Linked DNA regions of Homo sapiens: region 2 is linked to region 1. The links come from fine-mapping of genetic effects on gene expression. A gene starts in region 1. The other region holds a variant in brackets. All regions are shown on one strand. Distances are between the middles of the regions. Region 1 holds the start of RILPL2 (Rab interacting lysosomal protein like 2). Region 2 overlaps SBNO1 (strawberry notch homolog 1).

Region 1 (4,390 bases):
TCACAGCACCCAGCCAGATGATTTTTAACATATGTGTAGATCCCTATATCCATACCCTGATTAAGATATGGGACACTTCTAGCTCTCTATCAATTTCCCTTCTTTTCCCCCCACCACCAGTTTGCCTTCTATAACTATAAATTATTTTGCCTGTTCATGAATTTTATTTAAATGTACAGTAGGGCTGGGTGCTGTGGCTCAGGCCTGTAATCCCAGCACTTTGGAAGGCTGAGGTGGGTGGGTCACTTGAGGCCAGGAGTTTGAGACCAGCCTGGCCAACATGGTGAAACCCCGTCTCTACCAAAAAAGAAAAAAAAAAAATAGCCACGCGTGGTGGCACACGCTTGCAATCCCAGCTGCTCAGGAGGCTGAGGCAGGAGAATCGCTTGAATCCAGGAGGTGGAGGTTGCAGTGAGTCGAGGTCACGCCACTGCACTACAGTCTGAGCAACAGAGCAAGATTCTGACTCAAAAAAAAAAAAAATCTACAGTAGTTTCTCTTTAGTGCCTGGCTTCTTTCTCTCAATGTTACATCTGTGAGATTCATTCACACTGCTGTGTGTATCAGCACCCCGTTCTTTTTCTCTGTTGCATAGTATTCCATATATCACAATTTCAAAACTCAATTGGGTTGCATTTAGAGTGTTTCCAGTTTGGCAGCTGAGACTAAAGCTGCTCTGAATCTTCTTGTCTATGTCTTTTTGTGGTCATATGCACTAATTTCTCTTTAGGTAAAATGTGTTTCTTGTCCAAGTGTGGTGGCTCACATCCACAAGCCCAGCACTTTGGGAGGCCAAGGTGGGAGGATTCCTTGAGCTTAGGAGTTTGAGACCAGCCTGGGTAACGGTGAGACCCCCATCTCTACAAAACATCAAAAAAGTTAGCCAGGCATGGTGGCACATGCCTGTACTCCCAGCTACTTGGAAGGGCAAGGCAGGAGAATTGCTTGAGCCTAGGAGGCCAAGGCTGTAGTGAGCCGTGTTTGCACCACTGCACTCTAGCCTGGGAGATAGAGCAGGACCCTGTGTCAAAAGAAAAAAAAAGTGTTTCTTGCTCTAGGTCAAAGGTTCTCAAACTGTGGACCCTGGGCCAATAGCATCAGCATTAACTGCGAACTCGTTAGAAATACAGATTCTGGCCAGGCAGGGTGGCTCACACCTGTAAACCCAGCACTCTAGGAGGCTGAGGCTGGGGGATCACTTGGAGCCAGGAGTTTGAGACCAGCCTGGGCAACACAGCGAGATCCCATCTCTTAAAAAAAGAAAAAAGAGAAAAGAGAAGAGAAAAGAAAAGGAAGGCGTCTCCCTGCCAGTAGGTGCCCTCCTACGCCCCGCAGGCGCCGTGGGCCCGGAACCCTCGCTCCCACACTCACCTCCCCGCTGGCCGGAGGGCTCTGTCTCCGCAGCCCCTCCACCTCCTTCCTGAGGTGGTCCCTCTCCATCTTCAGCTCCTCCAGCGCCAGGCTGCCCTCATTCACCAGCGCCTCCAGCATCTCCAGGACGCGGACGACTTTGAACTGCAGCTGCGTCACCCGGGGGTCGCTGCCCAGGGCCATAAGCTCGCGGCCCAACAGGTAGGAGATGTCATACACGTCCTCGGCGGTCAGCTGGAAGGGGCTCTTGCCCAGCGCCCCCTCGGGCCCAACCTCGTCCCTCTCCTCGTCCTCCTCTCCCTCCTCCTCTTCCTCTTCTCGCACAGGGGGCTCCTCCATGGCCACCCAGACCCCCGCCGACCTCGGAGCTGCTGTCTTGGAGTCTCCCAAAGGTTAGACTTCCTCCCGGCACCCAAAACTTTCCGCTGGGCAGAGTCCCTACCTGCCCAATCAGCGCGGCCCGGGGGTGGGCCCGGGGGGATGGTGCAAGGGGCCGCGCACGCGACTCTTGGGCCTGCGCCCCGGCGCACCGTCCCCGCTGCCAGCCACGCTGGAGAGTGCGCTCCAGGATGTGGTTTGGGGCGCGAAGGGACAACGGAAAAGGAGGCAGCCGAGAAGAGGAACGGGGAAGTTCAGGGGTGACGGCAATCGCCCCAGCCTGGGAACAGTTGCAGCCCCGGGGAGGAGCCGCCCTGAGCCCCGCCCCTGGCGACCGCTGCCAGGAGGTGCGTTTCCGTGGAGACGGAGTTTCCACCGTGCAATCCAGAGCGGGGTAAAAAGAACGCAACTTTTTCCTTTCCACCCTCGTGCTTTCCAGCCGTAGAATTTGCATCGTAGGTGATGGAAGATCCGGGTGTCTCTTTGAGGGTGTTTTCTGGAGCCTGCGGCCAAACAGAAAGCAGCTGCTGGGGGCAGCGCGACAGAGTCCCCGAGGCTTGAGGATCTGGAAAACTCCCAGGCAAATTGTCACTAGGGCCTGGGGCGTCCGACTTCGCTGTGACTCTCAATAAAATGGAGAATGTCTGCCCTGCTCACTTCGCTGGGTCCTCGGCTCCTCCACGTAACCAGCGCTGTCACCTTGGCAAGTTACTTAACGTCTCCGAGCCTCAGTCTCCTCCTCTGTAAAATGGGGACAATAGCGGGACCCAGGTGGCAGGGTTGCTGCGAGGAACATGAGCTTATGAGATCATGTGTGCGACACCTCAAGCACTTAGGAAGCACTCACATACGTGACTGCAATCCTTCATTCTTTCTTTCTTTCTTTCTTTCTTTTTTTTTTTGAGACGGAGTCTCCCTGTGTCGCCCAGGCTGGAGTGCAGTGGCGCGATCTCGGCTTGCTGCAAGCTCCGCCTCCCAGGTTCACGCCATTCTCCTGCCTCAGCCTCCCGAGTAGCTGGGACTACAGGCACGCGCCACCACGCCCGGCTAATTTTTTTGTATTTTTAGTAGAGACGGGGTTTCACCATGTTCGCCAGGATGGTCTCGATCTCCTGACCTCGTGATCCACCTGCCTCGGCCTCCCAAAGTGCTGGGATTACAGGCGTGAGCCACCGCGCCCGGCCCCTTCATTCTTTCTTCCACAGCGCTAGGGAGGAATTGCTGGTGTTGGAGACACCTTGCTACTTGGGTGAGAGAAGGAGGAGTAATTAACAAGAGAGAAACCCCTGTCTGAAAATCACAAAGCATTCGACACATATGCGGAATCCATATTACTGAGAATATTAGCAGAGTGGCGTAGAAACTTGAGTCATTCGCTGTGGCTCATGCCTTAATCTCAACACTTCAGGAGGCTGACGCAGGAGGATTGCTTGAGCCCAGGAATTTGAGACTAGCTTGGGCATCATAGTGAGACCCTGTCTCTACAAAAAGTAAACAAAAGTAGCTGGACACAGTGGTTCATGCCTGTAGTGGCAGGTACTCGGGAGGCTGAGGTGGGAGGACCACTTGAGCCCGGGATGTTGAGGCTGCAGTGAGCCAAGATCTCACCACAGAGTGGTGCCTGTGACAGAGTGGGACCATGGTGACAGAGTAAGATCATGTCTCAAAAAAAAAGGCACAACAAATCTCAAGTTATTTTAGGTTTCACTGGAGGTTTGTGATAGTCTCAGGCAGAAAGCTCAGCAACGGGGCTTGTCTTTCCCAGGAATGTATTGGCAGCTTTCCTTGTGATAGGTGTATCCATTTTCTCCACACTGAGGTACTAGAATCTCAATGGAGAATGTACATAGATTAAACCAACCAACAAAAGCAAAGCAAATTAACAAAACACACTATTTTCAGAGGGTCGTTTCTTTTTATTTTATTTTATTTTATTTTATTTATTTGTTTATTTATTTATTTAGAGACAGAATCTTGCTCTGTTGCCCAGGCTGGAGCTCAGTGGCATGATCTCGGCTCACCGCAACCTCCGCCTCCCTGGTTAAAGCAATTCTTCTACCTCAGCCTCCCCAGTAGCTGGGACCACAGGCGCATGCCGCCCCGCCTGGCTAATTTTTTGTATTTTAGTAGAGATGGGGTTTCACTGTGCTGCCCAGGCTGGTCGCGAACTCCTGAGCTCGGGCAATCCTCCCACCTGGGCCTCCCAAAGTGCTAGGATTACGGGCGTAAGCCACCCTGCCTGGCCTATTTTACTTTTATAAAATAAAAAAGTCAGGCCGAGATGGGCGGATCACGAGGTCAGGAGACCGAGACCATCCTGGCTAACACGGTGAAACCCTGTCTCTACTAAAAATACAAAAAAAATTAGCCGGGTGTAGTGGCGGGCGCCTGTAGTCCCAGCTACTCGGGAGGCTGAGGCAGGAGAATGGCGTGAACCCGGGGACAGAGCTTGCAGTGAGCCGAGATCGCGCCACTGCACTCCAGCCTGGGCAACAGAGCAAGACTCGGTCTCAAAAAAAATAAATAAAAATAAATAAATAAATAAATAATAAATAATAAAAAAATAAAATAAATAAAAAAGCCTCACTCTGTTGCCTAGGTTGGAGTGCAGTGACACGATCTCGGCTCACTGCAACCTCTG
Region 2 (4,390 bases), 130 kb before region 1:
GTGGAGGTTCAAAGGCAAACGAAGACCAGGAATGAGGTCTCTAGGACCACCACTCCTCACGCCCAGCCACCTGTTGCCACACAGAGAATGAAGGACCAGTATTATCACATCCTTCAACCTAAGAGAAGCTGGGGATCAGGACTTTCATCACAATCTACCAACGGTGATATTCTGGCAATAATTTCAATTTAAAAATAATAACCAAGAGCCAGGTGCAGTGGTGCATGCCTGTAATCCCAGCTATTCAGGTGGACAAGGTGAGAGGATGGATCAAGCCCAGGAGGAGTTCGAGACTGTCCTGAAAATAACCAACACCTTATGTGGACCAATCAAAATTGCATCTATGGGGGATAGCCGAGTAAAATACTTGAATTCTACCAATATCAACATCTTGGTTGTGATATTACACTACAGTTTTAAAAAATATTACCACTGGGGTAACTGATAAAAGTATGCAAGATGTTTATCTGTACTGTTTCTTATAATGACATGCAAATCAACCTACAGTTCAATCAGTATTTCAAAAACCCCAAAACCAGCAAGGCACAGTAGCTCACAACTGTAATCCAGCACTTTGGGAGGCCGAGGTGGGAGGATCATTTAAGCCTAGGAGTTTGAGACCAGCCTGGACAACACAGTGAGACATCAACTGCATTAAAAAAAAAAAAAAAAAAAAAAGCCAAATGTGGTGGAGTGTACCTGTGGTCCCAGCTACTTAAGAGGCTGAGGTGGGAGGATTGTCTGAGCCCAGGAGGTTGAAGCTGCAGTGAGCCATGATCACGCACGCCACTGCTTATCAGCCTGGGTGACAGAGCGAGCGAGATCCCATTACAAAAAACAAAACCAAACCAAAAAACCCCAACTCAACTAGGAGCCAGATCCTTTGAGAGCTTTTCTCTAGGTCAAGGATCAGCAGCTTAGGCCTGTGGAATAAATCTAGCTTGGCACTCCTAAACTGAAGTAAGATTAAGAAGGAATGAAGGAAGGTGGGAAAAAAAAGAGAAAGGAAGGAAGGAAAACACAGAGGACATGCAATATAGACCACATATGGCCTACAAAACCATACATATCAGACCTTCATAGAAAAAGTTTAGCAACTCCTGCCCTAGATCATTTATGACTTCATCCTGCCTGTGCCATCATCATACATGTAGGTACTTCATATGAGCAAGAACCAGGTCTTACTTGCAGTCACTCCATAAATATTTGTAAACAGAAAGCAAAATATGTTATATACAACCAATGAAATATTACTCAGCCTTGTAAAAAAGAACGAAGGGGCCAGGCAGCGTGGTTCACACCTGTAATCCCAGCACTTTGGGAGGCAGAGGTGGGAGGATCACTTGAGGCCAAGAGTTTCAAACCAGCCTGGTCAACATAGTGAGACACCATCTCTACAAAAGAAAAATTAAAAAATTAGCCACATGCCAGGCGCGGTGGCTCATGCCTGTAATCCCAGCACTTTGGGAGGCCAAGGCAGGCGGATCACCTGAGGTCAGGAGATCGAGGCCATCCTGGCTAACACAGTGAAACCCTGTCTCTACTAAAAATAAGAAATTTAGCCAGGCGTGGTGGTGCGTGCCTGTAGTCCCAGCTACTCGGGAGGCTGTGGCAGGAGAATCGCTTGAACCTGGGAGGCGGAGGTTGCAGTAAGCCAAGATCGTGCCACTGCACTCCAGCCTGGGCGACAGATTGAAACTGCCTCAAAAAACAAAACAAAACGAAACAACACAACCCCAAATATCTTAGAGAACTGGCGAAATAAAATTTCTGTTGTCTTGGATCTGAGTAAGTAAATATGAAACTCAAGATACTGCTGAATATCTACATACTGTTGAGTATCTACACATACATGTATAGATGTGTGCGCACACACACCCCTTAGTTCTGTCCACAGAGACAAATCATAACTGAAAGAATGTAGCTATTTTACTAA[C/A]TGAAAAATGAGTCTTAAAGATATAAAGCATTATTAAGACTAAAGTAAGTCTCTGTCTTATGAAAAATGCTTAATTTAAGAAAATGTTGGCCAGGTGCAGTGGCTCAAGCCTGTAATCCCAGCACTTTGGGAGGCCAAGGCGGGCAGATCACGAGGTCAGGAGATCGAGACCATCTTGGCTAACACGGTGAAACCCTGTCTCTACTAAAAATACAAAAAAAATTAGCCAGGCGTGGTGGCAGGCGCCTGTAGTCCCTGCTACTCTCGGGAGGCTGAGGCAAAGAGAATGGCATGAACCCGGGAGGTGGAGCTTGCAGTGAGCCGAGATCGCACCACTGCACTCCAGCCTGGGTAACACAGCAAGACTCAATCTCAAAAAAAAGTTAATTCAGCCAGGTGTGGTGGCTCACATCTATAATTCCTTTGGGAGGACAAGGCAGGCAGATCACCTGAGGTCAGGAGTTCGAGACCAGCCTGGCCAACATGGTGAAACTTCACCTCTACTAAAAATAAAAAAATTAGGCTGGGCACAGTGGCTCACGCCTCTAATCCCAGCACTTTGGAAGGCCGAGGCAGGCAGGTCACCTGAGGTCGGGAGTTTGAGAACAGCCTGACCAAAGTGAAGAAACCCCGTCTCTACTAAAAATACATGTCAGCCAGGCCTAGTGGCACATGCTTGTAATCTCAGCTACTCGGGAGGCAGAGGATGAGGTGAGCTGAGATCGTGCCATTGCACTCCAGCCTGGGCAACAAAGAGCGAAACTCTGTCTCAGAAAGAAAAAAAAAGAAGAAAATGTAACAATTCTAAACCCACACCTAATAACATCCTTTAAAATGCATTAAGTAAAAACATAACACAAATGGACAAACACACAATTACAATGATAAATTACCAAAATAGACAAAGCTAAACACAACTGGGAAACAGGTACAAAGTGAAGAGACAATTACAATGCTGGCCATTAAAAAGTATTATATATCTGAATAGAATTTAAAGGAAAAGTCGTACTTGCAATGACAAGTAAAAGCCATCGTCTGGTCCTGTCAGCTCAGCCCAAATCTTGGTAGCTTCCTCCCATGACATTCCCCTCTCTACACTAATCTGTAAGAGAAACAACGAAATTTAAACTCATTTCTGTAAATGCATCTCATGGGAAGACGATACTTCACAACATTTTCTAAACTTACTGTGTATAATTCTACGTGGCCAGAGGTTGAATATCCTGGAGTCAGAAACTTTTTAACATCACTTTTCCGCACTTTTTCATCTCCAGAACCAAGATCTTGAACAAGAAAAAGAAACATGTAAATGTAAAAAGAACATTTTTATCAGGTACACACGTTTAAAGAATTTCTCCACTCCACATTTTCCCTGGGGACATTGTGGGGGGGAAATTTTCCCTACTTACCTAAGATTCCCATATCATATCTTCCATTTTTTTTGGCATTTTGAACAACTGCAGTAAGTGTGTCCGCAAAATACTGAAATAACGCATTCTGCTGATGCACCTCCATGCCTAAAATTCTATTTAAGAATTTTCCTATGTTGTTATAATCTGTAATGACAAAAGATAAACGTTTTCATGCAAATGATAATTAAAAATTTTTTATTCATCTAGGCTTAGTTCAAGTCCCACTTTCTCTTCTAAAAGTCTTCCTTCTTAACTCTTACACTGTCCTCACAACAAGGCTGTAATCTGCCCATTTCTCTCTCTAGCAATTAGCACCACTGCAGGACACGCTCAAAAGAGGTTTGTCAAATTGAATTTTTGCATCTTCAGCCTCACTTATGGAAAGTATGAACACAATTCAGTACATAAGAAAGTTAGTTCTCCAACACTGAATTCTCAACTGTAGTGGCACTATTAGAATGTCTGGGAGCTTTGGAAAACTACCGATGTCTGAGCTCCACCCGACTTCAGTAATTTTTCGTTTTGTTTTGTTTCTTGAGACGGAGTCTTGCTCTGCTGTTGCCCAGGCTGGAGTGCAGTCATGCAATCTTGGCTCACTGCAACCTCCCCCTGCCAGATTCAAGCAGTTCTCCTGCCTCAGCCTCCTGAGTAGCTGGGATTACAGGCGCCCGCCACTATGCCTGGATAATTTTTGTATTTTTAGTAGAGACAGGGTTCCACCATCTTGGCCATGATGGTCTTGGACTCCTGACCTTGTGATACGCCTGCCTCAGCCTCCCAAAGTGATGGGATTACAGGCGTGAGCCACCGCGCCCGACCAATTTTTTTTTATTTTTTTAGACGGAGTCTTGCTCTATTGTCGCCGAAGTTGGAGTGCAGTGGTGCAATCTCGGCTCACTGCAACCTCTGCCTCGCGGGTTCAAGTAATTCTCTTGCCTTAGCCTCCCGAGTAGCTGGGACTACAGGCACCCGCCACCAGGCCCGGCTAATTTTTGTATTTTTAGTAGAGATGGGGTTTCATCATATTGGCCAGGCTGGTTGC

Evidence for each region. PIP is the estimated chance that this variant, and not a neighbour inherited with it, causes the effect.
Region 2: its variant is the best candidate, but not a certain one, in a credible set for the expression of RILPL2 in whole blood (TOPMed, PIP 0.76).

What each region holds. Positions count from the first base shown.
Region 1 is chr12:123,434,711-123,439,100 of GRCh38, forward strand. It overlaps RILPL2 (Rab interacting lysosomal protein like 2), which reads right to left and starts at 1,974. Exons shown (of 4, transcript NM_145058.3): 1 at 1,372-1,974. The coding sequence starts at 1,710. RefSeq lists an enhancer at 950-1,879 and a silencer at 1,721-1,980.
Region 2 is chr12:123,306,365-123,310,754 of GRCh38, forward strand. It overlaps SBNO1 (strawberry notch homolog 1), which reads right to left. Exons shown (of 32, transcript NM_001167856.3): 26 at 3,346-3,492; 27 at 3,125-3,219; 28 at 2,946-3,038. Among named protein-coding and RNA genes, the nearest start is that of CDK2AP1, 37 kb to the left of the region's middle. The variant C/A (reference allele first, on the strand shown) is at 1,937.